Linked DNA regions of Homo sapiens. The protein of the gene in region 6 purifies or fractionates together with the protein of the main gene of each other region. This does not show direct contact. Each region holds a gene or a part of one and is shown on either strand. Other genes may lie near its edges. The genes, in order: GNB4, RTN4, USP12, DNAAF8, ATP2B2, GPR161 and UBE2Q1.

Evidence for each region.
Region 1: the proteins of GPR161 (region 6) and GNB4 purify together in Homo sapiens (affinity purification with mass spectrometry; one large-scale study listed by BioGRID and IntAct). This does not show direct contact.
Region 2: the proteins of GPR161 (region 6) and RTN4 purify together in Homo sapiens (affinity purification with mass spectrometry; 2 studies listed by BioGRID and IntAct, with this or other methods). This does not show direct contact.
Region 3: the proteins of GPR161 (region 6) and USP12 purify together in Homo sapiens (affinity purification with mass spectrometry; 2 studies listed by BioGRID and IntAct, with this or other methods). This does not show direct contact.
Region 4: the proteins of GPR161 (region 6) and DNAAF8 purify together in Homo sapiens (affinity purification with mass spectrometry; one large-scale study listed by BioGRID and IntAct). This does not show direct contact.
Region 5: the proteins of GPR161 (region 6) and ATP2B2 purify together in Homo sapiens (affinity purification with mass spectrometry; 2 studies listed by BioGRID and IntAct, with this or other methods). This does not show direct contact.
Region 7: the proteins of GPR161 (region 6) and UBE2Q1 purify together in Homo sapiens (affinity purification with mass spectrometry; one large-scale study listed by BioGRID and IntAct). This does not show direct contact.

What each region holds. Positions count from the first base shown.
Region 1 is NC_000003.12:179,402,599-179,406,690, reverse strand, and holds part of GNB4 (guanine nucleotide-binding protein subunit beta-4), read left to right. Parts: intron 1-1,284; coding exon 1,285-1,501; intron 1,502-4,092. UniProt on the Homo sapiens protein: Guanine nucleotide-binding proteins (G proteins) are involved as a modulator or transducer in various transmembrane signaling systems.
Region 2 is NC_000002.12:55,040,363-55,044,454, forward strand, and holds part of RTN4 (reticulon-4), read right to left. Parts: intron 1-4,092. UniProt on the Homo sapiens protein: Required to induce the formation and stabilization of endoplasmic reticulum (ER) tubules. They regulate membrane morphogenesis in the ER by promoting tubular ER production.
Region 3 is NC_000013.11:27,091,452-27,095,543, reverse strand, and holds part of USP12 (ubiquitin carboxyl-terminal hydrolase 12), read left to right. Parts: intron 1-4,092. UniProt on the Homo sapiens protein: Deubiquitinating enzyme that plays various roles in the regulation of the immune response and inflammation.
Region 4 is NC_000016.10:4,747,114-4,750,385, reverse strand, and holds the end of DNAAF8 (dynein axonemal assembly factor 8), read right to left. Parts: intron 3,044-3,272; coding exon 2,761-3,043; 3' UTR 2,752-2,760; intron 2,148-2,751; exon of another isoform or gene 1,662-2,147; 3' UTR 990-1,661; downstream 1-989. UniProt on the Homo sapiens protein: In cyliated cells, dynein axonemal particle-specific protein required for deployment of ODA to the axoneme. Interacts with outer dynein arm (ODA) subunits.
Region 5 is NC_000003.12:10,341,404-10,345,495, forward strand, and holds part of ATP2B2 (plasma membrane calcium-transporting ATPase 2), read right to left. Parts: coding exon 3,981-4,092; intron 1,563-3,980; coding exon 1,349-1,562; intron 1-1,348. UniProt on the Homo sapiens protein: ATP-driven Ca(2+) ion pump involved in the maintenance of basal intracellular Ca(2+) levels in specialized cells of cerebellar circuit and vestibular and cochlear systems.
Region 6 is NC_000001.11:168,134,015-168,138,688, forward strand, and holds the start of GPR161 (G-protein coupled receptor 161), read right to left. Parts: upstream 2,917-4,674; 5' UTR 2,725-2,916; exon of another isoform or gene 2,383-2,724; coding exon of another isoform or gene 2,243-2,382; exon of another isoform or gene 1,996-2,242; intron 1,023-1,995; exon of another isoform or gene 908-1,022; coding exon of another isoform or gene 892-907; intron 1-891. UniProt on the Homo sapiens protein: Key negative regulator of Shh signaling, which promotes the processing of GLI3 into GLI3R during neural tube development.
Region 7 is NC_000001.11:154,552,024-154,556,115, forward strand, and holds part of UBE2Q1 (ubiquitin-conjugating enzyme E2 Q1), read right to left. Parts: intron 3,942-4,092; coding exon 3,837-3,941; intron 3,510-3,836; coding exon 3,405-3,509; intron 3,006-3,404; exon of another isoform or gene 2,763-3,005; coding exon 2,712-2,762; exon of another isoform or gene 2,627-2,711; intron 1,650-2,626; exon of another isoform or gene 1,586-1,649; intron 1,150-1,585; coding exon 1,009-1,149; intron 798-1,008; coding exon 713-797; intron 442-712; coding exon 381-441; intron 161-380; coding exon 70-160; intron 1-69. UniProt on the Homo sapiens protein: Catalyzes the covalent attachment of ubiquitin to other proteins. May be involved in hormonal homeostasis in females. Involved in regulation of B4GALT1 cell surface expression, B4GALT1-mediated cell adhesion to laminin and embryoid body formation.

The DNA.
Region 1 (4,092 bases), on a different chromosome or scaffold from region 6:
TAGTGAGCTGAGATTGTACCACTGCACTCCAGCCTGGGTGACAGAGCAAGACTCTGTCTCAAAAATAACAAAAAAAAGTAATTAAAAGAAACCAACACATCCTGTTGAATTTAAGAGTATCAAAAGATGGGAGAAAATTCAAGATGAAAACGCAGATTACCTAGATATAAAAGATTAAAAACCAAGCTAACCTCACACTTTTTCACAATAGACACTGCTGAAAGGCTCCTGAACAGTATCTGCCAAGTGTTAAGGGAGAAATACTGTGACCCAATAATTTTAAGTATCAGAGATCATAGTCATGATGTGGGGAGGAAATACACTACATATAATACAGGATAAGAGATTAAGACCAAGAATAATCACTTAAGGCATTACACGTAAATGATTACTGCTATTAAAAGATACAGAATAAACTGAACTATAATGTTGTATGCAAGAAACACACCTAAAACAAAATGACCCAGGAAGGCTAAATGTAACAGTAAGAGAGTGGGTAAGTCATAAACTGGAAGGAAATCTGTAGTAATATTACTATATTACTATTAACCGAAGTAGAATTGGAGCAAAAACTATAAGATGAGAGAAGTTTTATCTTAATGAAAGGGACAGTAGTGATGCTATAACATTGAAATTCATAAAACAAAAGCCATTAAAAATTCAAGGACCCAAAACACCATTGTGTAGGAGACTTTAGTAGACAACTTGGAAATACTGATATCTTAAGAAGGCACGAAATAAGATGCTGAGGATTTGAATAGTGTTATTTAATAATGTTGACTTGAGAGTATATTGTAAATTGCACCATATTTGGGTTTTACCAAATACACAGTATATTACCTTTCTAAAATCTGAAAAATTCTGAATTCTGAAAAAGAACTGTCCCGAGGGGTCCTTATAACCCTATAAGGATTGTGGACCTTTTATCTCCTTGCCATTCGTTCTACAACAGCCACACACACACACATATATATTCTATAAATATTAGTACTTGCTTTAAATGTTTCAACATGACATATGGAGAACCAGAGCCAGTATTTGTTGAATACTTGCTGTGTTCTGAACAATGGGCTGTGTACTTTGCATATGTTATTTAATTCAGTCTTAATCACCACTTTGAAATGGAATCTGAGGCTCAAAATATTTAAGAATCTTTAGTGCCCAACATCGCTCACCTGGTAGGTAGCCAAGTTGGAATATTAATCTAGATTTGTCTATTATTACATTGCCTCCTATGATTGTGCATACATCTGTAGAATAAATGTTTGTTACTTTCCTGTCTAGTTTTTCCCAAATGGATATGCCTTCGCCACTGGCTCTGATGATGCCACTTGCCGGCTCTTTGACCTTCGTGCAGATCAAGAGTTATTATTGTATTCTCATGACAATATCATCTGTGGAATCACTTCTGTAGCCTTCTCAAAAAGTGGGCGTCTCTTGTTGGCTGGTTACGATGACTTTAATTGTAATGTATGGGACACGCTAAAAGGAGATCGTGCAGGTTAGTAAATAAGTCCACATTAGGTTCTGATTTTCAGGAAGCGTGAAGAGGTTCCCATCAGTTGTGTTCTAGGCCTCCATGGACATCTTGGAGTTGTGGAAAGTGGTAACCCGATGGTTCTCATCATGTTCTTTGTTGTTACCTTTTGTTTGTGGTTATAATCCATAAGCCATATTTACACTTTTGCTTTCTGAAGAATCACACTGAGGTCTGTAATATTTTCTTATTTGGTAGACTTCAGAATTAAAGATGGATAGTGAATGTGATTCAGTGTGGTCTTTTAGAAATCACACTTTTCTTATCACCTGACAGGAAACATTGTAACTGCTGGTTTTCTTCCTTCTGAAGCAGATCTTGTATGGGACAGGACATAGACCTGTCGCTTCCCTTAGCCCCATACCCTGAGTCCTCCTCTGCAGCTTCTACAAGATGACAATACACATTAAGCCATACTGGGGACTGTCATTAATAACAAGTCATACAGAGTAATTTTTAGCTATTTTTAAAAATCAAAATTATACTTAAAGGAATCCAGTTGTCCTATATAGCTTGTTACCAAAACACAGCAGTTGCTTCATCCCCAACCCATAGTTTCTGCTCCCCAAAGTAACTACATTTAGTAATTTACCTACCCCTCCTCTCTCCCCGCCCCCTTTGTTTTGTTTTGTTGGGACAGGGTCTCTTTATGTTGCTAAGGTTGGTTTCTTCCCGCCTCAGCCTCTGGAGTAGCTGGGATTACAGGCTTGAATCACCTCACCTGGCTTACTTACATATCTCTAAATAACATGCCTGTATTGCTGTTACTTGTTTAAAAAAATAAAAATTCAGGTGTTATCTGTTGTTGACCTATTATCATGGATGAGAAGGGTTGGGTTTTAAGCTGCTCCTGCCGTAGCCATGTTCTTCCCAACCAGTTTTTCCCATATGATAGATTTTGTTTAGAACCACATTCACTGTTTACATAATTCCGACTTTTTAAAAAGTCATTTGCTGCTGAGCCATGAGATGTGTTATGACTTCTTTTGCCATGCAGCTTTTTTGTATTTTCTAGAGTTAATTTTTTGGTTTATATTCTTAGTTTCTATGTGCTTCTCACTAATGAATCTTCACACTTTATGCCAGTTTTGATGTGTCTCGGAGCGGATCCATTTTCGTTCATTGTGCTGGGTATTTAGTGAGCCTTTTTGATCCGGAAACTCATTACCCTATAGAACAGGGACATTTGGGGGTGGGGGCTTGTTGAATTTTATTTCTTCTCTATTATCATCATTCCCTTTTTCTAGATCTCCCATTATGTTGAAAATGGGCTTCCTGGACTGATCCTTTTGACTTTTTTTGTTTTTTAAGAATTTTTATTTTACTTAACTTTATTTTATTTTATTTTATTTTTTTGAGACGGAGTCTTGCTCTGTTGCCCAGGCTGGAGTGCAGTGGCATGATCTTGGCTCACTGCAGCCTCTGCCTCCCAGGTTCCAGCGATTCTCCTGCCTCAGCCTCCCGAGTAGACTAGCTGGGATTACAAGTGCACACCACCACGCCCAGCTAATTTTTGTATTTTCAGTAGAGGTGGAGTTTCACCATGTTGGTCAGGCTGGTCTCGAACTCCTGACCTCAGGTGATCTGCCCACCTCAGCCTCCCAAAGTGCTGGGATTACAGGCGTGAGCCACTGCGCCCGGCCTGACTTTTTAATTATATTTTTTATTTTCCATCTTTTTTGCTTTATCTTCTGGGAGGAAACCTCACCTCAGGTTTCCACCCTTCTGTTAAGTTTTGGTTTTCATTTTCGCTACCATCTTTTTAACTTAAGAGCTATTATTAGTGAAAGAATTTTTTTTTTAAGTTTCTTCTTCAAGCATCATCTTTTGTGTTTCCAAGTTTTTTTTTTCTTCATTTTTGGGGTTTCCTGTCTTTATTTTTAGAATATTTCCTTAAAAGTGTTAATTCTTATTCATACTTAAGAGCGAGGCACTAAAACCATTTGAAGCTCTGGGCACGTGGCTGGTGTGCTGACTCGGCCTCCATTTACTCTAGGCTGGCCGTTCACTGAGGAAGCTTTGCTGTGTCTGCCTTTCTGCCTTTCTTCCTTTTTCCATCTTCCACTTTCCTCCATGAAGTGTATAAACTGGCTGCCAGTTTGAGGGCTGATTTCAAGAGAAAACCTGAGGGACCACAACATTTAGCTAGTAAACTTTATTCCCCATTTCAGCACAGTTTTATCAATCGCATCTGTGCCTGTTTTCTTCCAGTCAGGAGACCCTGTTTTACCCTTTCCTCTGAGTGAGTCTCTGGCCTTACGCCACAGCGCAGGATGATCTGTCACCTGACTGCAGAGTGGAGGAAGGGGACACCTGGGGGCTCTTACTGATTGATGAACACTTTCCAGCACAATCTTATTTTACTCTGCCTTTGCCCCTACCTGTTCCAGAGATACCTGGTTCTACCTAGTAGGGACACTTTTGGAGAATCTGCAGTGTAATTTTGTTACTTGGCTTACTATTCATTTTGAACTCAGTATTTTGGGGTTCATTAACACAGTTGCCACCATCCAGCTTACGAAAGTTCGTTGCCATTGCCTGCTCTCATCTCACTG
Region 2 (4,092 bases), on a different chromosome or scaffold from region 6:
TCTTCAGAAGAGAATAAATAAAAGTAAATTCCCTTATTTTCTGAGATCAAAACCTCTAGTAGCTTAAAAAAAAAAAGTTGTAACACTTTTAGGTCACCTCCATCTACGGTTGTCAGGGCACTGAGATAAATGAACTCAATAATGGCACCTTCCATTTAGGCGAGTTTATAAATCAACCTACAAAGTTGGGGAGAAAGAACACGTAGGCAGACCTGGAATCCTTAAGTAAGCTTCTCTCTTTCCACAAAAGCAGTTCACAGATCTGTAAATATGTCCTGTAAGGCCAATCACAAAACTCCTCTGGTTTTAAGAGCAGAAAATTCTTTACAACTAAGGGCCTGTATTTTTTCCTTCATCTGCTACCTATACCTCTCATAAGTACAACCTCTATTCATCTTTCTTGTCCTCTTACTCAGCCCTAGGCCTAGTTAAAAAAAAAAAGGAATATATTAATTTTTTTCTTAATATTGAACTTCCAAGAGACCACCAATATAAGCAGCAACTCCAAACTCTTGAACAACAAAACTTTATAAACTTTCTGTATCTGTGGTAACAATTCCATCAATGAGAAAAACAAGCTATTAAAGAAATAATTATTTTTGAAAAGTAGAGGGCCACCTATGTAAAGAGACTGCTTTAAAAAAAAAAAATCCAGTATTTGGCAGCTATAGCTCCTAATACAAGAGTACAGAGAATATTTCTTTCTTTCTCAACACAATTTTTTTTTTTTTTTGGAAATGAAAAAGCAGGAAGACTTAGCTTTCTTTCTCAGTCAATTATCAATTGAAAAGAGAGAGCCAAATACCTGTATAATTCAGTATGTTACAAGGAGGCTAGAATATTTATTTTTAAAAGTCTCTAGTTCACCTAATTATATGCTAAATTTTTTTTAAATACATGTTAATAAAAACCACGTGTTTATGGAAAAATACACAATATCAACACCGAATGTATTTCAATTCTCCCCAAAATTAATCCATAAATGTAATGCAACCTACTAAAACTCCAACAGAGGGAGAGGGGACAAGATAAAAAAAATTTTAAGATGAAGTAGAAAATTATACACACATAAGATAGCCAAGAAAAATATTTATGGAAAAGCCGTTTAGCTAGTATTTAAAAATTATAGCACAACAGTCTGATACTTCTGTGTGAACTGACAGATAAATGGAAAAGCAGAGGAAATATTTCACCCATACTACAAGAATATGACAAAAATGGTACTTCAAAGTGGTTAAGAAGGATAATTCAAAATAAAAGGTATTGGAACAAATGGGAAATAATCTTGAAATATAAAATTATTTCACTACTTCACTCTCTAGAACAAAACAAACTGCAAATAAATCAAATAATTAAATGTTAAAATGAAATCATAAAAAGTATAAAAGTACTTACTAGGAGTAAACATGGGGGAAAATTTTTATGATCCTCAAGAAGGATTTTCTAAGGATTACATAAAACTCAATGACTTTTTTCACTTTTATGACTCAAAGTCATAAAAGAAAATGATAAATCTGACTACATAAAAATTTCTAAACAGAAAAACATACCATATGGTCAAAATACAAATAACAAATCAATAAAAAGTTTTCAAGACATATGACAAAAGGCTAGTTTCCTTACAATGCAGATTAAGTGAATCTACATACATGAGACCAAAAACCCAAAAGAATAGGCAAAAGCTGTGATCAGAAAAAATTTGACACCTAAGCCTATGAAAAATGACTCAAATTTAAAAGAACAATTTGCTAAACAATGTATTAGTTCACTAATATACTGTGTTGGTAAAGATATAAGGGAAAAGGTACCTTAACAGGTTGGTGGGAATAAAGGTTGGAACCATTCTTTGAATGACACTTTGGCATTAGCTACCAACATTTTAAATGCAAATATCCTTTGAAGCAGTAATTCTACTTGCACAGATTTATCCTACAACATATATAATGGCATGTATTCCCAAAGAAGTGTATACAAGAGTGTTCACAGAAATAGTATTTGTAAGAGAAAAAACTAAGTATCAACCTAAATAACCATCAATAAGGGACTGATTAAATAAAATATGGTACATCCCCAGAGTCCTCTGCATCTATTTTTGTGGAAAATAAAGTGAAAAGGATATACATGTATAAATAAATATTTATCCACAGATTATCTCTAAACAGATACTCAAGAAACTACTAACAGAGGGTGGATCTACAGAAGACAATTTGTGGAAATCTGGGTAACAGGTAGAAAGAGTTACTTTTCTGTGTATTCTTGTAGTACTGTTTGGAATTGTTACCTTGTATACATAAATAAATAAATGCTTTCGTAAGATTTGGGATTTTTATTGAGAGAAGATATTATAGTAATTCTAGAACTATACAGAATATGAAGATCAGCATCTTTCTCATTCAACAAACTGAGTGCCTATCACATCTAAGGCACTGCAATGCAGACACAATGCATACAGTCCTTTTCCTCAAAGAAAAAGGTCACAGCACCTTTCCTCAAGGAGTACACTGTCTGGTGGAGGAAAGAAATCAGTAACCATACCATTACCTTATATAGAATGATATATACTATGAAGAGGTAAGAACAGAATATTATGGAAACACGTGATGAAAGCAACTTAAAAATCAATGATCATCATTCCAAGAAACATAAATATCAATAGCTTAAATATGAAATTATCAACTCCTCCTTTGGGGTTAAAAAGGATGATGATGGCATTAGTCTGAGAAAATCTTAGCATCAGTAAAGCTGGGTCTCATCATTTTGCATACCTATGTCCTGCACTAGCTATCCACAAAGGTCACATTCATTCAAACACTACTGAGAACTATGGTTTTACCATTACAGTTCCCATCCCTAGTGCTGTCATCCTCAGAAGAACCTGATCCCTTTAGAAACAGGAACAAAAAGTCTCAAAGAATGTACCATAAGTATAGTATATCTGCAACATTTACTTCTATTTATTTAAGGGTTCCAGGGAAGAATCAAGAAATAGCCATTCAGTTTATACTTTTATCCTGGGCTAGCAAAGTACCTTAAAAAGGAACCATTAAATTGAGGCTTTGAATCAAGTTATTCTAATAAGTTGCTTGAAGGTATATTATGAAAATAAATGGCGGGGCACAGTGGCTCACACCTGTAATTTCAACACTTTCAGAAGTCGAGGTGGGAGAACTGCTTGAGCCCAGGAGTTCAAGACCAACCTGGCCAACATAGTAAGACCCCATCTTTAAAAAAATAAAAATAAGGCTGGGAGCAGTGGCTCACACCTGTAATCCCAGAATTGTGGGACACCGAGGCAGGTGGGTCACCTGAGGTCAGGAGTTCAAGACCAGCCTGGCCAACATGGTGAAACCCCGTCTCTACTAAGAATACAAAAATTAGCCAGGTGTGGTGGCACATGCCTGTGGTCCCAGCTACTCGGGAGGCTGAGGCAGGAGAATTGCTGGAACCTAGGAGGTGGAGGTTGCAGTGAGCCAAGATTGCGCCACTGCACTCCAGCCTGGGCTACAGAGCAAGACTCCACCTCAAAAATAAAATAAAATAAAAATAAAAATAAAAATATATTTAGGCTGGGTGTGGTGGCTCACGCCTGTAAACCCAGCACTTCGAGAAGACTGCTTGACCTCAGGAATTTGAGCCCAGCCTGGGCAACATGGCGAAACCCTATCTGCACGAAAAACACAAAAATTAGCCGGGCGTGGTGGTACGTGCCTGTGGTCCCAGCTAGTTGGGAGGCTGAGGTGGCAGGATCACTTGAGCCCAGAAGATGAGGCTGCAGTGAGCCAAGACTGCACCACTATACTTTAGCCTGGGTGAAAGAGCAAGACCCTGTCTCCAAAATATAAATACATAAATATAAAAGTTTTTTTAAAAAATTTTAAAAATAGCCAGCATGGTGGTGTGCACCTGTAGTCTCAGCTACCTGGGGGGCTGAAGTGGGAGGACTGCTTAAGCCCAGGAGGTCAAGGGTATAGTGAGCCATAATCATGCCACTGCACTCCAGCCTGAGCGACAGAGTAAGACTCTGTCTCAAAAGAAACAAACAAACAAACAAACAAACAAAAAAACTTGCCAGGCATGGTGGCTCATGCCTGT
Region 3 (4,092 bases), on a different chromosome or scaffold from region 6:
TTCTTTGAGAAAGACAGAATGGAAGATGAACTTGAAAGTTGTAATTCTTAGGTATAGGAGTTAAAGATGTATTTTTCAGTTAAAAGGAATCTGTCTGTATTCTTAATGTAATGTTGCTTATTGACAATGAATACCTGAGGTGATAGAAAGATACTTACTGTAGCTTGAACTGTTTGATTTTCTTTCAGTTTAGGAGGCCATAGAACCATGTTGTGGAAATTATGTCTTATGACATAATCTCATAGGATCATACAGATCAGGGAGGCATATTAATTCGTTTTTCCTTTTTCTACGATTACCTTTAGTATCCATTGTTGGGATAAAAACTAAAGCATACAGTGTACCCTCAAGGAGGGGAAAAAATCCCACTTGCTGGACACTTTGTAAAGATGAAGCTTGAAAATTGTTACACCCAGGCTGGAGTGCAGTGGCCCAATCTCAGCTCACTGTAGCCTCGACTTCCTGGGCTCAAGCAATCCTTCCATCTAAGCCTCATAAGTAGCAAGGACCACGAGCACGTGCCACCACACCCAGCTAATTTTTAAATTTTTATTTTTTGTAGAGACAGGGGTCTTACTGTGTTGCTCAGGCTGGTCTTGAACTCCTGGGCTCAAGCAGTCTTTCCACCTTGGCCTCTCAAAGTTCTGGGATTACAGGTGTGAGCCATTATGCCCGGCCAGTCATGTTCTTTATAGCATTTTCCCTATTCAGTACAGAATCCAATTTAGAGGGGGACATTGCATTTAGTTGTTTCTTTAGCCTTCTTTAACCTGAAACATTTACATGGTCTTTTTTTTTTTGAGAATATGCCTCCCTCACCTTTTTAAAATCAGATGTTCTCATATTTAGTTTCTCTGATGTTTCTTCCTAACTAGATGCAGGTTATGCATTCATGGCTAATAATAATATATCATTCATGTTGTGTTTTTCTCGGGGCATCACGTCTGTAGGCACACAATATCCATCTGCCTCTCATTGGTGAAATTAATTTTTGATCACCCAGTCAAGGTGGTGGTGTTTCTCCATTTGATTTATTTATTTGGAGACAGGTTCTTGCTCTGTCGCCCAGGCTTTAGTGCAGTGACACTGTTATAGATCATTATAGCCCCAAGACTCCTGGGCTCAAGTGATCCTCCTGCCTCAGCCTTCTGAGTAACTAGGACTACAGTGCATGCCATCACCCCCAGCTAGTTTTTAAACTTTTTTGAGACAGAGTCTTGCTGTGTTACCCAGGCTGGTCTTGAACTCCTGCCCTCAAGTAACCCACCTGCCTCAGCCTCCCAGAGTGTTGGGATTACAGACATGATCCACCGTGCTGGGCCAGTTTCTCCACTTTATGATGACTTTTTTTTTTTTTTTTAAATCCCCTTGCAATTAGTAGGCAGTCTGTGGGGAGACACAAATACCTCCCTCCTCATCAAAATCTCACCCAAGATTTAGCATGCATTTATGATTTTGCCTGATCTCATCTTTACTGTGACAGTTGTGCTGCTAGTTTTTAATAACATTGGAAAATAGGGTCCACAAGCAAGAAAGCTAAGAGTCCTGTAAAGTCTCCATAGTTTTGCCTTTTCCAGAATATTGTGTAGTTGAAATCATATAGTATGCAGCCTGTTTGGATTAGCTTCTTCCACTTAGCAATATGCATTTAAGGTTCTTCCATGTCTTTTTAAGGCTTGATAACTTATTTCCTTTATTTTTGGCTGAGCAACATTTCCACTGTAAGGATGTGCTGCAGTTTTTAAAGTTCATTCACTTACTGAAGGACGTCTTGGTTGCTTCCAAGTTTTGCCAATTATGAATAAAGCTGCTATAAACATTTGTGTGCAGGTTTTTGTGTGGATGTGAGTTTTTACTTCCTTTGTGTAAATATCAAGGAGCAGGATCACTGGATTGTATGGTAAGAGTATACTTAGTTTGATAAGAAACCAACATTCTGTCTTCCACAGTGGCTGTACGATTTTTCCTTCTTACCAGCAGTGAATGAGAGTTCTTGTTTCTCCACATCCTTGCTGACATTTGGTGTTGTCAGTTGGATTTTGGCCATTCTAATAAGTGTGTAGTGTTATCTCATGTTAATTTGCAAGGCCCTAATGACATATGATGTTGATCATCTTTTTGTCTGCTTATTTATCATCTATATCTCTTTAGTGATGTGTCCAGATCTTTTGTCCATTTTTTAATCAGGCTGTTTTTCTTTGAGTATTGTCGAATTTTAAGTGGGTTTTTTTTTTCGGGTATAATTTTGGCTACTAGTTCATAATCAGGTGGGTCTTTGGCAAATATTTTCTCCCAGTCCGTGACTTGTTTTTCATTCTTTTAACACTGTTTTTGGCAGAGTGGAAGTTTTTTTTTTTTGAGATGGAGTTTCGCTCTCGTTGCCCAGGCTGGAGCGCAGTGGCTCACCGCAACCTCTGCCTCCTGGGTTCAAGTGGTTCTCTTGTGTCAGCCTCCCTAGTAGCCAGGATTACAGGCACGCGCCACCACGCCCGGCTAATTTTGTAATTTTAATAGAGACAGGGTTTCTCCATGTTGGTCAGGCTGGTCTTGAACTCCCGACCTCAAGTGATCCACCCACCTTGGCCTCCTAAAGTGCTGGAATTACAGGCGTGAGCCACCGGGCCTGGCTGGCAGAGCAGAAGTTTTTAATGTTTTAATTATCAGTTTTTAATTTTAATAAAGTCCAACTTTTTCTTTCATGCATTATACTTTTGGTGTTGTATCTAAAAAGTCATCCATAAACTAAAGGTCCCTTAGAATTTCTCCTATGTTATCTAGGAATTATATAGTTTTTCATTTTATATTTAAGTCTATGATCCTTTTTGAGTTAATTTCTGTATAAGGTATTAGAAAGTTTATTCTGGGTTAATTTTTTTGCATGTGGATGTCCATCTGCTCCAGCATCATTTGTTTAAAAGACAATTCTTTCTCTGTTGAATTGCCTTTGCTCCTTTGTCAAAGATGAGTTGACTCTTATTTGTGTGAGTGTATTTCTGGTCACTGTCTTCTGTCCTGTTGGTCCGTATATCTGTTCTTTCCCCACTACCACACTGTCTTGATTACCGTAGCTTTAGAGTAAGTCTTAAAGTCAGGTAGTCTCAGTCCTCTGACTTTGTTCTTCTTCAATATTTTGTTGGCTATTCTGGGTCTTTTGCCTCTCCATGTAAACTTTAGAATCAAGTTCGTCGATATCCACAAAATAACTTGCTGGGATTTTGATAAGGATTTTGCTGAACCTATAGATGAAGTTGGGAAAAAAATGATATCTTGACAAAGTTGAGTCTTCTTATCTAAGTACATGCACTGTCTCCCCTTATTTACCACTTTTTTTGCTATCTTTCATTGGAGTTTGGTAGTTCTTCCTCATATCAATACCATGCGTGTTTTGTTAGATTTATATTTAAGTATTCATTTTGGGGGGTGCTAAGCACCAACTATGCCAGGTAGAAGATGGTAGAAGATGAGTAAGACATAAGCCTCTGATCACAAGATACTCCTATGGTAATGAAGACTGGCAAAGCAGTGTTCAGGCAGTTCCAGTACAGTGTGTTATCGTATGTGTATGCACAGGATGCCATGCCAGCCAGAGAATAGTAGACCTAACCCAGGTGGGAGTGGGAAGGATTTGGACAGGTAAAGGACCAGCTTCCTGGAGGAGCTCATGCTTGTATTTTAGAAATGCAATTGGTAATGTCTCAGGTGGTAGGAAGCTGGTGTCTATAACACCCTTTTCTGGTGTTCTCTATGAGGGTTCCTTTTCAGTCTCATTCCTTGGCTTCTCTTTTTCCATTCTTTAAATGTGGGTGTTCCCCAGGGTTTCATTGTCGGTTGCTTCTCACTCTGAATTGGGAGGATCATGATCATGTTCCATTTTATTATCACATGTGCTGATGAGTCTCAACTCCAGATCTCCACCCTAGACTTCTTCCCTGAGTTTTAGACTGGGATCTCCCCATATTGTGCATGACATGACATTAGGACATATTAGTCCAATAGCAGCCAGATGTCTTTACAACCACTTTGAAAAGTGGAATACTGTCCTACTTGATGACCGCTTGGCACCAACTCAATCGCAAATATAAACGTAGTAAC
Region 4 (3,272 bases), on a different chromosome or scaffold from region 6:
ACTGCACTCATCCTGGAAGACAGAGTGAGATCCTGTCTCAGATAAAATAAACAATTTTTTTTTTAAGTCATTGCTTCTGGCCCCTGTGTGCTCTGTCCTGTGTCTGCAGAATGGGGCTGCCTGGTTGAGGGACGGCTTTTACCTTCTAGACTAGCTCTGGGATCTCTCATGGGGCATGAGGTACCCAGCTAGATGTGGCCAGGCCACACTCCAGGAGCTAGCAAAGCACCCAGCGTTGCTGACACCCATCTCCCCAGCGCAGCCTGAGCCCCCAGGCCCCTCTCTCATATCCAGGCCTGTGCTGGAGGTGGCGGCCTCTGGGGGAGTGTGGTTGGGGTCTGCCCACTTCCCTCCCCCTGCCGAGGCTGTGGCCTCCCACTGGCTGCTGCTTGGCCCCATCTCATGGTCGCTGCCTGCTGCTTGGCCCCATCTCATGGGCGTCATCCTCAGCACTCACGTGATGGGAGAGTTTTGTAGGAGCTGTGAGTCCCAGGTGCCTGCGTGTGCTGTGATGTTATCTCATGCAGTCCAGTGAGGGGGGACTCCCATTAGTCTCCTTTTTTTGTTTTGTTTTGAGACACAGTCTCACTTCATTACCCAGGCTGGAGTGCAAGGCACGATCTTGGCTCACCACAACCTCCACCTCCCAGGTTCAAGTGATTCTCCTGCCTCAGCCTCCTGAGTAGCTGGGATTACAGGTGCGCACCACTACGCCTGGCTAATTTTTGTATTTTTAGTAGAGATGGGGTTTCTCCATGTTGGTCAGGCTGGTCTTGAACTCCCGACCTTGTGATCCACCCACCTCGGCCTCCCAAAGTGCTGGGATTACAGGCGTGAGCCACCGCGCCCGGCCATGATTCTCCTTCTGTGGGTGGAGGAACTGGGCACTGGGAGCGTGAAAACCTTGCCCAGGTGGCAGAGCCAGCTTTGGACGCAGGTCTGACTTCCTACCTCACTCCCCTTGCCTTGACAGACACAGTAATTCAGAGTTGAACTTGGAACAGAGTTTATTTTCCATCACTGTAAAACATTCTCAGTGAGGTTACTGGCATTAAAAAGGTGGGAGAAATGGAAGAAAATGGGGTTGAAGAAAAAAAAAGCCTTTGCTCTTGACAGCTAGGCAGCCACAGCGGAGGCCGCCAGGCTGCGAGGGCAGCGTATGGGGGCAGAGCCCGGTTCTGGCGGCACAGGCCCCGGAGTGGAGGGGGCAGGGGAGGGTCTCTGTAGGTGGGAGAGGGCCTGGGGGCTGGGAGGCAGCCTGGCCTTGTGCCCTACAGGAGGGACCTCCTGGGACTTTATGGAAGCCTGTCTTGCCTTTGACTTGCAATGAAAATGCCCCTCATCATTGGGAGTGGGGTCGGGTGGGGGTCCCCAGTGGCCAGATCACGTGGGGTCCAGAGAGCAGACATCTGTAGCCCTGATCTTGGCGGCCAGTGACCACGGCCAAGCAGGGCCTGTCTTTTGCCTGGTACAAGGCTTGATGAGAAGAGACCCCTGCCCATCCTCAGTGGCCTGGCAGCCAGGGGTGAACCCCAGGGGAAGCTGGGACACTGTCCCAAAGGCCCGGCGCCCTACTGTGCTGCCTGAGCCCGTGGCACCGTGGGGCCCAAGGTGGTGATGATTTCTCTGCTCTTCCCACGGGGCAGACAGCAGGACACATCCTGGAGACAAGGTTGGGGAGACAAACAGGTGCCCAGGTCAGGGCTGATCACAGCAGTTACAAAAGCATCCCGTGAAGACGGGGCTGCAAGACGGTGCTGGCAAAGGAACAGGACCCAGGAAGACCAGGCTTGTCCTGTGGAGGGGCCGGGTCTTGGCAGGGGGCAAGCAGATGTCCCCAGTTTTTGCTGGTGATCAACAAGTGAGGCCGCTGCTCCATTCTACACAGGACAGCATTTCCAGGGGTTTCCAGTATTCTGTCTAGATTCATAAAGGTCAAAGGCCTTGAGAATCTATGTGTGCCTTTCTATCTTAGGTAAAGAAGAGAAAGAGAAAGCAAATTCTCGTTACTCCTCTTTCAAAAAGTTCATTAAAAGCCAGGCTGGCAGCTCACAGTGCTATAATCCCAGCACTGTGGAAGGCCTAGGCAGGAGGATTGAGAGGAGTTCCAGACCAACCTGGGCAACACCGTGAGACCCCATCTCTACAAAAAAAAAAAAAAAAAAAATTAGCTGGACATGGTGGTGTGCACCTGTAGTCCCAGCTGCTGCGTCTCGAAAAGAGAAAAAACCACGTGTATTAGATCTGTGTGGGTAGGCATGTGTGTGTCGTGTGTTAATTTAGGTGCCCAAAATAGCAAGTATGCAGGAAGCCAGAAAATAAGGCTTAGGTCTCTTTCAACCCTAAAATCCTCTAAATACGTTTTACTTGGTTTTTAAAAAGACCTTATTGATGGAAATAATAGATGCCTGTTTAAAAAAATGCAGAACTGGAGAAAGATGAAGAGCCTCAGAGTCCCGCAGAGAGCAGCACCCCGTCCTCCTGCTGTCCCTGCCCATCTCCCTCAGAGGACCAGGCCCCTTTATCCCAAAGCTGTTGTCACAGGTTACATACAGATTTGTATCTGCATCCTTCCTCTAAGTTCATGCACCTGTGACTGAGCTCTAACAGGGTGGGCAACAGTCCAAAGTCTGAGGGTCCCTGCCTCTGGAATGCCCCTGCTAGTGGAAATGCAGGAACAACAAGGGGACACCGGGGCCCAGGGTCCATGGCAAGTCAGCCCGCCCCTGCCCACTCCTGGGATCCCACTACCTGAGGCAGCTATAGTTGCTCCAGAGGAGGCATCAGGGCCTCCCTGGCTGCCCCTGGCTCAGGAACATCCCCCAGGGCTCTGGGCCTGCCTCTTGGGAGTCGAGCCTGGGCGCTCTGCCCCTTGGCACAGAGCTTCATGTGTTGCTTCCTCCCAGTTCGTGATCCAGCTGTGTCTTCAGGGGCCTGAGCCCTCCCACCCGCGGGCCCCTTGCTGGCAGGCAGCTCGGGCTGGGCTGTCCCCTTCTGAAAGGCCCTGAGCTGCTGGAGAAGCTGGCTTTTCCCGGTACAGGTCCTGTGACACAATGAGACCAAATTCACTCAACCCCGTGGGGGCCGCCCCTCCCAGCCCTCCTTACTGAAACAGGAGAAAAGCAGATGAGCCCAGCTCCCATTTCAGAGCAAGAATGCAATTCAGGCAGCCCATCACTGCTGCCACTGCTGGGACCCAGTGGACGTGGGCAGGATGATGAAAGCTGTGCCGTCCCCCTCACCCTGTGCGGTGGGTGCAGCAAGACCTCACC
Region 5 (4,092 bases), on a different chromosome or scaffold from region 6:
GGGTTCAAGTGATTCTCCTGCTTTAGCCTCTCAAGTAGCTGGGATTACAGGTGCGCACCATCACGCCCGGCTAATTTTTGTATTTTTAGTAGAGATGGGGTTTCTCCATGTTGGCCATGCTGGTCTCGAATTCCTGACCTCAAGTGATCCACCCGCCTCGGCCTCCCAAAGTGCTGGGATTACAGGCATGAGCCACTGCACCTGGCCAAGTCCTGTGTCCTTTTGCACAGCTGAGTAAAGTGGTGCCAGGAGGCTTGTGGAGTTTTCTGGGTGTGAGATGTCCCAAGACTACCCAGGGTAGGTGCTGCTCAAGTGGTCAAGCCAGCAAGCCGACCAGGACCCCCGCTCTCCTCTCCTCTCCAACCCCTCCACCTCCTCTGAGTCTCTTCTAGTTCTGCATATAAGTGGCTTCCTCTAAGCTTTTTCATGATAAGTTTTACAACAGTAAAATGTGTCCTGACAACACACTACTTTCAAAATTTATAAAAGGCAACTAACTGCCTTTGAGGAATGGATCCATGCCCACCTCCATCACACTCTGGGCTTTGAGGACAAGTGAAAGGCCAGCTCCGGGAGGCTCCTGTAAGGAGAGAACTGGCCCTGATTCCATGTGGGACTGCGGGCCAGACCCTTCCCCTCTCTGGGCCTCTGTTTCCCCATCTGTGACCTGGGGATAGGCTTTGTTGGGATTGCCTCCGAAGCATCTGTGGAAACCAGGCCAGTCTTGGCCCCAGCCAGACCTGGTTCTGTGCCCAGACTCTTCCTCAGACTGGCTGTGTGCCCTTGGGCAAGTCACCTCACCTCTCTGAGCCTTGGTGCCCTCGTTTGTAATGTGGGGTGGAGGCAAATGTGCTTGCCTCACTGAGTGGAAGACCCAACCAGGCAGCCCAAGTGGAAGCATTGTGAGAGTCGGTGGTGGTGTGAGCGTGTATGCCCTGCCCCAGGAAGCCTTGCTGAGGGTCCCTTCCACGGGGCCAGGATAAGGTGCTGGAATGGGTCAGAGAAGGGGTGAGTCACTCCCCTCCCAGCCTCAGGTGCCTCTGGGGCTGCCATGCAGTGCTTCAGCACCCGGTCAGGGCCTTGCACGGTCTGTACTTGTTGCCAGGAGCTGTCACCAGTGGAGAAAGCCACTGATGGCTTTAGGGTTAGCCAGAGCTGGGACAGGGCCAGGCCCTGTTCAAGACTTGCTGGTGTGACCTTGGGCAACTTACTTGACCTCCCTGGGCCTCAATTTCCCCATTAGCAAAACAGGAGGGGGTTGTGACTCGAGAATGCTGGGTGAGAGCCATGGTGCACCCAGAAGGTGATGACCCCGCCTGGGAGAGGCGTGGGTGGGCGAGGCGCTCACCAACAAAGAGCAGGGTGAAGATGAGGGCAAGCTGGTAGACAGCATGGCCCAGGATGTTCTTCATCATGGTCCTGGAGATGAGCGGCTTGTTGCGGCCGTACGGCTTCCTCAGCAGCAGGGTCTCCGTGGGCGGCTCAGTGGCCAGTGCCAGCGAGGCAAACGTGTCCATGATGAGGTTCACCCAGAGCATCTGCACGGCCTTCAGAGGGGAGTCCTGGGGACGGGCAGGAGAGGGCTGTCACCTGTGCGCCCACCTGCTGCTGTGAAGTGCTGGGCGGGCTCATGGTGTAGTGTCCGCAGGCTCCTGCTGGAGGCTGGAGTCCGACCTGCCCCTTGGCTCCCCAGCAGGCATGGAGTTGTTCTCTGATGCCTTCTCTGGAGAACAGTGCAGACCTGCCCACCTCAGCCACATCTTCCCTGCCAGGAGATAAGTGAGTCCCCCCAGGCCCAATGGCCACCAGCTCCCTGCCTTCTGGTAAATTCAGCTGCATCTCACCATCTTCCCCTCTCCCCTCCAGCCCCCGAGGAGGGGGTCTCTCCTGGCTGAGGCCAAGACCATTCCCACCGCCTCCGGCATGGGCTCCTACCTCCTCCCCCCACTGCCTCCTCCCCCTCGGGCTTTCTATCCTACAAACAGTGCCCGTCCCCCACCCCCCCAATGTCTCCTCCCCTCTTATCCCGCCTTACCTTAAAAAATTATTGTGCGTATCTATGACTCAAAAATTAATACATTTCAAGGTAGGAAATATGGCAAATGAGGAATAGCAAAAGCAACTAAAACTGTCAAGGACCTCACCACTTTTAGGTCACCACTGTCCAGGTTCTGGGAGGGACCCTTTCAGACCTGTCTCTTTGGCTGAGAGGAGCTGGTTCTTCTGTCCCCATCCTTCCTCACACCCCCACGTATCTTGTCCACAGCAGCCAGACTTTGGCCCCTCCACGTTCCCAGAATGCCCTCCGCCCACGTCACCAGCACCTTCTGTGCCACGAGTTGCAGGACCTCTTCTCGGCCAGATGTCACTGACCTCGCCCCTGCACTCCCACTTGTAATCCTGACCCCACTCTCCTGGTCGTCGTCCTCCCTTCCTTTTAAATCTGTGTTCCTGCCTCAGCCCCATTCTCCTCCTCGTCCTGTGGCTTTAGTTACATCCGTCTAGTGGCCTGTGGAACACCTCCTCCAGGAAGCCCCCAGACCCTGTAAGCTCAACAGCCCAAACCCGATGCTCTTCCCACCTCTGTTCTCTCCCAAAGCCCCATATACCTGCATCCCTTCCACTCATCACCTCCCAGGTTTCATCACAGCCCCTGCTCCTGGCTTTCTCTCTCACCTCCTCCTTGCCTCAGCCTCGCTCCCCTTGCCCCCGTCCTCCCCACCCCGGGCTTTCTCTAATTCCATATACCTCAGGGTCAAGTGTGCCCGTCTTCTTATCAATGCTGCATGGCCTCGCCACCAACTCAATCAAAGACCTCAGGCAAACTGATAGTGGTCTCAGAATCTCAGTTTCCCTATCTGGCATCAAGACCTTCTGGTTTCCAAGTTGCTGGGGCCGCAGGAGTGTTCCTCAAGCTGCCACTAGAGGGAGTGTCTCATCCACAGGCCAGGAAAGAGGGCCCTTCTGAGCAAAAGGAAGCCCCCAGCCACCCTCCCAAGGCTCCGATTCTCAGGGCTGGGGTAGCCGGAGCTGCCACCTATATTCCCCCAGCGCAGGAAGCAACAGAGGGGAGCAGTGTTCCAGCGCCACACAGCTCTTGGGGCAGTGCTGCACTCTGGGCCTCTGGGGGCTCCTGTGGGCATGGGCTTGTCTGCCCAGGTGGCTACTGGGAGTGTTGGGCCTTGGGGATCCCCTGGGGCTAAGGGAGACCCATTCTTGCCTCCCTGGCCAGGCTGGTCAGCCCCTGTGGGGAGTATCAGGAGACTGCAAGAACAATGGCAGGTCCCTGGCCAGTCCATCCTCTGAGCCTCAGTTTCTGCCTCTGTAAAATGAGGATCATCACAGTTCCCACCTCATGGAGCTGCATGAAGAAGCAGTCAGTCTGCAGACATCTGGGGCCTGCCTGCCAGGCTCAGTGCATAGGGCTGCTCCAGACCCAGTCGTGGTATCTGGCCAGACTCCTCTGTGACCTTCCCAGTGAGCAAGATCCCCGACTCCCTCCAGTTATCCCCACCTAGCACCTCCTAAGGCACTCCACACTCCAGTCCAGAGCCAGGGCCCCAGGGCCCCCACTGGCTCTTTGTCCTCACCTGGATGCCTGATCCCCCTTGGGCCCTGGCCTGCCCCTCCCTGCCTCCCTCTGCCCTCGTGGTGGCCAAGGGCCCTGCCTTCTCTTGAGGATTCCCTCTCCTGCCTCCTGCAGTGAGGGCCAGGCTGTGAGCCTGACAGCTCCCATTTGCTGGGTGACCTTGAACAAGTCACGCCACCTCTCTGAGCCTCATGTCCTCGACTCCCCTGGGGCCAGTGCCTGCACCTGAGCTCTGTGATGCAGTTCCTGGCCCCCAGCAGGTGCTCCATCGATGGGTGCCTCATCCCCGGCTGTTCTGACAGGGACAACCTGGAGTACCCTAAGGCCCCCGAGCCTCTGTGGGGGGTCTCCGCCCTCCCCCAGGCTTTGGTGTGGTCTCCTGCGGACCCACCTGCGTGATGCAGGCGCCTGTGAAGGCCACAATCACGGCCACCACGTTGACGGTGAGCTGGAACTGCAAGAATTTGGAGATGCTGTCATAGACGTTGCGGCCCCACATCACT
Region 6 (4,674 bases):
TACTGTGTTTTAAAATATTTACAGCTCTTAGTTTTGAAAAATTACTATATTCCATGAATGCTTTACATTATTTACCTAAGGTCACAAGTTTATAAGGGGCAGGGCTGGGAGGTAGGCTGTCTGACTTCAGATAGTGCTCTTAACACAGTGTTCTCTCACCCATTGCTTGAGTATAAAACAAACACAAACTAAAATAAAATTGAAATATACCTCCTCATGCTTTACCCCTGGCCAACTGCAAATTCCTTCCTTTATGCTCCAGCACTCCCTGAACATATTTGCCATGAATGCTATCCTCTCCCCTGCTGAGCACATAAAATGTGCAAGGAAATAGATTAAAACTAGTTGTAAGCCTTTTCTCTTGGTGTAGAAACAGAGTCATAGACGAGTACTGGGTGAATGAATGAAGTATGGAGTCATAAAGTCAATCCCTCCTCCAAACTCCAGGTAGCACTGATAGCTATCTCTAGTTCTGTTGATGTTTTTTGTTCTTATAGAAAAACAGCAAGAAGACACCATTTCTCCCCTGCTGTCATGCTTTACTGCATCTCAGAATGACAGTCAGTGCTTCCCAAGGTCTCACACAGAAGACGCAAGCAGCCTGCACACATAATTTGGTTAAACTGCACGCACATTAAAAAAAATGTTTTGAATCAGTTGCTATCTTTAAAAATATATGAAGCTTGTTTTCCGTAAAAATTTACAGTTTCCCCCAAAACTAAGATCAGGCAACCATGTGCTGGAGCCCCACCGCACCTGCAGCTGCCCCCTTACTGGAGACAGGCTTAGCAGCACACAGCTCCCACCCAGCCCTCCTGTCCACCCGCCTCCTGCACTCAGGCTTCCTGACTGGTCCCTGCTGGCAGTGGAGTTTACACCACAGAACTGTACCTCCTCTTGCTGACATTTAGGTCAGTTCCAGTTCAGCCCATTCTGTCTTCCTCGGAACCCAAACAGAGAGCTCGCAGCCCTCTGACCACACAGTGCTCCTTCACCTCTCAGAGGACGCACAGTGCACCAGGCTGCAACACAAAGAGAACGGTTCGGATATCGTTGCGGCCTTGGATTAGTTCCAAAATGTCAAGCGGGCCTCTTAATGAGGGGTCTCTATTCTTGATGTTATGGCAGTGGAGCTACAGGGCAGGGAGAAGCCCTGAGTTAAAGAACTCACCTGTGTGCCATCAGGAAACCACGTGAAAAGCACTACCAAGGCAAAAGATCTGAGTTCAATCTGGGCTGCTTACCTAGCTGGGCAAGAATGCTTCATCTCTCCTGAGCCTCAGTTTCCTCACCTATCAAATGGGCTAGTAGAGCTTCACAAGGTTGTTGTGTGAATGAAAAAGTGTACATGAAAGTGCTTGTAAGCACCTGACAAGTATAAAATAAGACGGGTGTGGAGGAGGACCGGAAGAGAGGTGCTCTGAAAGAAGTAACAGAAATGGGTGCCATGCATTCCAGTTACAGTTGAAGAGCCTCTGTCTCTATGACCTGAGGTCCCTCCCACCTCCTCTTTCTGCCCTGAGGGCCTGAAAAATGCCTCTCTTCACTTGCTCCCAGTGGCTGCAGTAAAATAGATTATAAGGGAAAACCGCCTATTCCCCGAAGCAGTAGCTCTCCAGAACTCATCTGGAGGTCCAGGTCACTAGGGGAGAAGAAGCCAGGCTGAATCCACGCCTGGCTCCACGGAGGAGCCACAAGGATGGCCATCCTCCCCCAGCCCCTAGGACGCTGAGACAGGCTCACCGGAGGTTATCGGTGTCTCCATTGGACAATCAAGGAACTGAGGTTCTTTCCCTCCAAAACCACACACCTCCTCACGGCTTCACCGGGAGGTGGATCAAATGACCTGCTCTATGAAAGCACTTTGCAAAAGGGATGAAAGTACAATAACAAGCAAAAATAGCCTCCAAGATGTGATATAAAGCGATGCCAATGCGCAGCTATGTGGTTACTGGTGAGCAGACCTCCGGGAAGCACAGGACACACCCCACTTACCCAACAGACGTTCTCATCCCATATGCCTTTGTCCAAAGGTTGCACGGGGGTTAAGCTTGGCCCAGAAGGCGCCGAGGGCTGGTCGAGTTCTCCCCTTTCCAAGAACCAGCCGAATCTCCCTCCCGCAGATCTGAGGGGCAGAGCCGCCCATCCGGCGGCGCCGGGCCACTTCTGGGCGCGCCACCCGCCGCCCGCCCAGGCTCGGGGAGACAGCGCCCTGAGTCCCGGCTGGGAGAAGGCTGCTCACCTGGTCCTCACGGATTCCAGCCGAGGGGCGTGACCGCTTCTCCCCACACCCTTTGCCCTGAGCGGGACGTGGAGTCTCTTGGCCCCAGGGGGCGCGGCCCGCATCGGCAGAGTCCCGGGCACGCACCTACGCCCTCCCATCCAGCGGACTGTTTAGGGGCTTCGGGCGGCGCCGGAGAAACGGGGCGGGCTGCACCCAGCAGAATGGGGTGGGCCTCTCAGAAGCCCCAGGCCGCAGGGGAGGGGCGCGCCCCCAACATCTTCCCACAAAGAGCTCCAGCTCTCCAAAGCAAGGCGCAGTGCGGGCGGAGGACAGCCCTGACCTCCGAGAGGGGCGCGGGGAGAAAGGGAGCGCCGTGGGGGCGGGGACCCTTCCCGGCCCGCGCCCTGAGCCCTCAGCCTCGCACAATGAGTTTAGCCTGGCTCCATCCGGACCGCCCTCTCCGCCCGGGCCCGCGCCCGCGCCCCACGCCGGGTGCTCACCGAGGAGCGGCCGCCGCGGCAGCTCAGGCCCCGGCCCAGCCGCCTCCCCGCCTCGGCCACCGCCGCCGCCGCTTCCTTCCTCCCCGCCGCGCTCCGGGACTGGAGGTTTCGGGTTTCAGCCCACCGAGCCCCGCTTCGCTCCTCCCGCGGGCCAGCCACCAGCACGCGGACCCGGGCGGGCGCAGGCCAAGTAACTTTGCGGCGCCCGCGCCCCGCCCCGCCCCCCCCACGCCCGGCCGGGCCCCTCCGGCCCCCGGAGCCCCGAGCCGCCTCCCCGCGCCCCGCACTGCCCCGCCCCGCCCAGCTCCCGGCGCCCCTCCCCACCCGCGCCCCTTCCTTCGCGTCCGTCCGCCCGCCCTCCCGGCTGCTTCTTTCCCATTTCTTCCCACGAACAGCCTCGGCTGCTGCTCTTTGTCTCGCCCTTACCCTCTCGGCTCGCCCCACTTTTCTCCTGAAAACCTTTGTGGTGCCTAACTCAGGCCTTCCCTGTTCCCGTTCCTCCGCCCCAGTTCCAGCCGCTGGGACGTCGCCTTTTCCATGTCTCTCTCCATCACACAGACACTTTCAGATTCTTCCCGCAGGCTCCGCACAGTCCCATTCTCCTCCTCCAGTCCCGCCGTGGACGATCCTGGTATCGCCTTTGCTGCTCACCTTTCATTCATCCAGCCGACGGGCACGAGCATCCATCTGCCTTCTGCCAGGCTCTGTCCCGGGCTCTGTTAATACCACAGTGAATTCGTCCCGAAGCCAGCCCCGGGGAGTGGGGAGTGGACGTAAACAGGTCTTCACACTGCTGCCCTGCACTCCCTCGGAACCAAAAGGCCAGGGAGCAGTCATCACAAAACAAAGAGCGGGCGCTGTCAGCTCGGGGGACGGAACAGTTCCTTCTCAGAATGTTTGTTTTCCCTTCCTCACTCCCCACTTTGCCTGCCTGTCTCCAGACTCCTACGTTTTCTATGCAGCAGTCTTAATAAGGGGATGAAAAGTTGAAGCACAGAGTAGAACTGCTAAAAAGGGAAAGAAGGAAGGACAAACAGGGCAGCAAAATAATCAGGTAAGAAGTTACAAAGCCCAGTTCACTAAACTCCAGAAAAAAAAAAACAAACCCTGATGCTGTGCTTAGAGCAGGATTCACATTCCTCTGAAATCCATCTGCTTTGATAAATACATTAATTATTCCCTTGTCTACAGATTGACACTGTGGGAGATGCTTCCTTAATATTATTGGGCCACTGAGGCACAATTTAGAACAGTAATTTACTGTCTGGCACCTGCCAAACACCCACATTGCTCTGGGGACAAATGGGATAATGGGGAGAAAAAAGTAAATGGGTGCCTTAATATTCCTATGGGATAAATGCTTTATTTGGTCAAAAACTGGAAGCTGACGCTCCACTTAAGAGTCTAGGTCACGCGGCAAGCCAGACACTTGAAGGAGCTTAAAGCTTTCTGTTCTTAATAGTATTTTAGACACTTATTTTGAAATCCCTGATATTTATTTAATTTACACTGACTCAGATGTCGGCTAAGCTCTATGAGCCTGAGGGAGTGAGTTAACCTTCCTCTCAGCTTATTCATATATAAAATGGGGATACTCATACTTTCCTATCTGTAGAGTTGAAAAGGTTAAATGAGGTCATGTAAGTAAATCATCCAGTGACATAGAATCTGAGAACTAAACCCTTTTGAAAATTGGTATTCACGAAAGGTCTGAAAATATATGCCACAGACTGGCATGGTGAGAATGAGAATAAAAAATAAACAGTTACGGCTGTTGTGGCTCCATACCCATCCATGATGCGAAAGATGTCCTTCATACTGAGCAACCTTTTCCCATACTTACTCTATTTCATTTTGAACTCTTCAACAGAAAACACTTTTTTTCTCCTGCTGCTCATTATCAAATGCATTATTTATCACAAAGATTTTTCTTTTTTCTGAGCTCATAAG
Region 7 (4,092 bases), about 14 Mb from region 6:
CTCCACAGGACTGTCAGGCAGACTGGGCAGCCTAGGCCAGAGGGAGAGACTGGAAAAGAAAAGTCTTACTTTAAAGGAAAAGTTAAGTAGAATGAAGTCGGCTCCTTCTTTCTCTTTGAGGATCTGGAGATCGTTGTGCAAAGCGCTGTCCTGGTCAACTCTAAGAAGCAACAAGCCTGGGCTCAGATGCCTGGTTCCACCTCAGGAGCTTCATAAGGGCTCCCCTGCCCTGGCTGGCAGCAGACCACGAAACCACTGCCCACACCCGCTCCGGGACCCTGAATGAAAATGCTGGATGGGGCTGCCCTGGAGATCCCACCACAGTAGCCCCACTCACACTCCTCCTCAACTTCCTCTCCAATCCCAGAGTCCCCACTCACTTGAGGAGTTTGACATTCCAATCATACAGACTGTCATTCACGAGTTCGACTGCATAGTTTCCTGGAAGGAGGGAAAAAACAGGTGTTAGTAGAATGGTCCAGGTGGTGAGTGGTCTCTAATGCAGACCCCTTTCCCAGACTGAGAGAAAAAGATCAACAGCTCTAGGTTCACCACAGATGGACATGCAACCAAGCCACTGGCTTGAGGAGCTCCATTCTTGGCCTGAAAAGTTCATAAGCACTCCTGGACCCCAGAACCTCTTGGGCCCCTTGCCACCATACCCTTCTTTATGGGTGACTCTTGTGCAGGCCCCTCTCTGGGGCAAACTCACCGCCTTTGAAACTCTGTGATCGGTATATATCCCTGAGCTCCTTCATCAGCCGGTCAGTGGCCTGCACCGAGCCAGACACTGCACCCTGTGAGGGACGGATGACAGGAACATTCCTTGGTCGTGTGGTTTATAAACACACGTTAGACCTTAGGGGCAGTCTGGCAGCTTGCCCAGGATTTAAGAAAGGATTAGGCACAAAAAAGGAGTCTGCTCTCCATACTGAGATGCGATGGCCTACTACTTCCCAGCCATTTCCCACCAACCCCTTCACCAGCCTCTCTCTAGAAGGCACGTACATTTAAGTAATCTTGCCTCTGGTTCTTTTTAATTTTCTCTAGGATGGCCAAGTTTTCTTTTCCAATGCCATCATCTTCAGATTTCTTGCCCTCAGCTGGCTCTTCCTCTTTCATTTCATAGTGATCTAAGTCTTCTGTGTCCTGGAGGAGGTGTGGGGTGGGAGTGAAAAGAAAAGGAAAAAAACCGACACAGGTTAGAGAATGACCATCACCTTCCCAGTCCCATTTGGCGAAGAGCCAAAAGTTAAAGTGAAGCAGTCCATCTAGCAGTCTTATAAACGCAACGTGCTTTCCATTTTTAGAACAATTTCCAGCCCCATTCCCTCCACAGTCTAAATCTTCAGCTCTCAAGCTACAGCAAGGACTTCGGAAACGAGCAGAGCTGCAGCTGAGATCGAGGCAGGGACTTAGCCCTCTTGTTTCCTGGACTGACCCTGCTCCAACTGTTCCTAAAACTCCCTTGGCAGCAGAAACTCTTCCCTAATTCCTAGCAGAAATGACTTGGGCCTGACCCTGTGACTCAAAGCTCATGTTTCACCAGGTGACTATTGCACCCGGGAGTTCTCAGGGCCCCAAGCCTAAAGGAGAAACCTGAATCATTACATCTCCTCTCCTCGCTACAAATGCAAGGCATGAATCAGGTATGCAGAGGCACGCACTGCCAGATGGAAATGAGAAAGGATGTCCAGAGAGATATATGGAAGAGGTCAAGAACAGAATTAGCCCCTTATTCATCCTGCTCTAAGTGAGCAAGCAACTAGCTCACTGAGCATAGGGAAGGAGGAGAACCTATGTAGGGTTGAGCCCCTCAGCCAGATGTTGGGGGTGTGGCCCAGAGGGCTGTCCACTATCTGGGAGGAGTAAATTTCATGTCGTCAGCCCTTTGCCAGTCTCAAGAACCTTACACGGTTATAGAACCTGGGATATTAATCTAATGCTAGGAAATAAAAGTAATCAGAGTGATCTCCCCATTTCTGGCAGGACATACCTAATTACCACACCAGCAGGTAATGTCTACTGAGTGTTTATTACATGCCAGGTTCTGTCCTAGGTGCCGCAGATACTAGCTCATTTCATTCTTACCACCATCACTCATTATTCTATCATTATCCATTTTATAGATGCGGAAGCTGAGTCTAGTGAGGTCAATTATCATGCCCAAAGTCACAGCTCTTAGCAGAGCTAAGATTCAGTCAAGTTCTGTCTAGCTCTAAAGCTCAAATTCCTAACCATGATTTTATATTCTGTATGTTTTTAGAGAATATATCAGATAGATTGTTTAGCATTTATCATGTATCATCTGAAGCATTTTATATATAACACCTCATTTAATCTCAAGACAACCATATGCAGTAGGTATTATAATCCTACTTTATAGATAAGAAAACTGTAGCTTAGTGAGATTACATAAAATTCCTCAATTAGGATAGCTAGGATGCAAACACAGGTTTGTTGGACTCCAAAGCCATTTGAAATTAACTTACCCAGTATTTGGTTTGAACCGCGCTGCACCTGTCTTCAGTGGTTGGATATGGGTGCCCTGTCTCCTCTACTACACTGGCTATTCCTCCAGGTCAGTAAATCTGTCTTTATTCCTTTGATATTTTTCTCTCTCCAGTTTTAGACTGGAGTTCTGGATATGGGTACCAATGTTGCTGACTGCAAGAGCTTCCAGCCAATGCCACCTCAGGGGGCAAGCCTACCTCAGGCATCTCCTCATCTTCATCTTCTGAAGACACGTCTTCCTGTGTGCACTGCAGCAAGGAAGGGAAAGATGGAGATCAGAGCCCCAGTGGCTTGCTAGAATGCAGCCTCCAACCTACTCCCCTGAGCCCCCAGGTCTGGAAGTTGTGCGCCTGCCTGTAATGCTGCCAGTCTCTCCACCAGCCAGATCTGAGTGGAAGCAACAGCCCAGGGAATGGCTTTGCTACCAGCCCATTATTTTTCGCCTATCACTGCCAAAGAATAAAAGAAAAGCAAAATGGCTGTCTCTGTCACCCACCTCCTAAATCCTAGTTTAATTCTCCTAAGAACCCCTCCTTTACTTGATCTTCTTTAGACTGATATTGCATTCTTGGTTCTCACCAAGGGGCCTGGGTCCCCAGTGGCCACCAACTGTTATTGCTAAGATAATGGTAAAAATTCCCCCGCTCCCTTTCAACATCTGGGATGCTGCCCATGAGAATGAATTTTGATATCAGAGATGAAGCTACCAGTGCCCCATTTAGCAAAAGAAGATTCCCATCTGGAGAAGAACGAGGGTGAGAGTCATAAGACGTGTATGTTTTTGGGAGCCGGTGGGGATGGAGAGAAACTACTGATTTGTCTCAATTATTTACTGAGTACCCTGTGGGGCAACTCTGCACAACAGGGCCCGAGGCTCCTCAGCTGCTCACCTGCTCTGCTGGCAAGGGTTGATCCAGCATCTCCACATCTGGATGCTGAGGGAGGTTATAGAGTTTACACAGGTCGGAGATGATCCTCTTCAGATGCTGCAATAGCTACAGGTAGGGGAGCACAGAGACATCAAATCCTTCCCCACTCCGATCTGGATAAGTGCATGGATGAGCTCTTAGTTTGGGCCCCACACCAATAACTAGTTCTCTAAGCCTTATGGGCCACGTGGCTGTGGGAATGAGTCTCCTGATGGACCAATCCCAGGGCCGATGCAGGGTCTCCCTCTGGCTTCAGTAAGCAACTCCCCCGAGAGGTCATCCCCTAAATGTTTAGCTGTGTACCGTCCACTTTTCAGGATCCCTTTCACAGGATGCCTTTGTGGCATGGGCCTCATAAGAACAAAATGTACCCCTACCCTGTGGCCCCCTCACCAGAGTATTCCCTTTCTTTATGTCCACCAGCCTCTCCAAGACAGCAGCCAAGTTAGGGTCATCAGACTCCACCGACCAGATGGGGGGCACAGCAGGGTATGACTCCTGAAGGGAAAAGAGCAATAAGAGCAATCAAAATGGGTGACTCTGGGAAAAGCCAGATTTTGCCTGTCCTCTTCCCCCCAAGACTTCTAGCCCCTTTGCTTCCCACCCCCACCCCCTACACACACATAAAAGCCCAACTTAGGTCAGCATC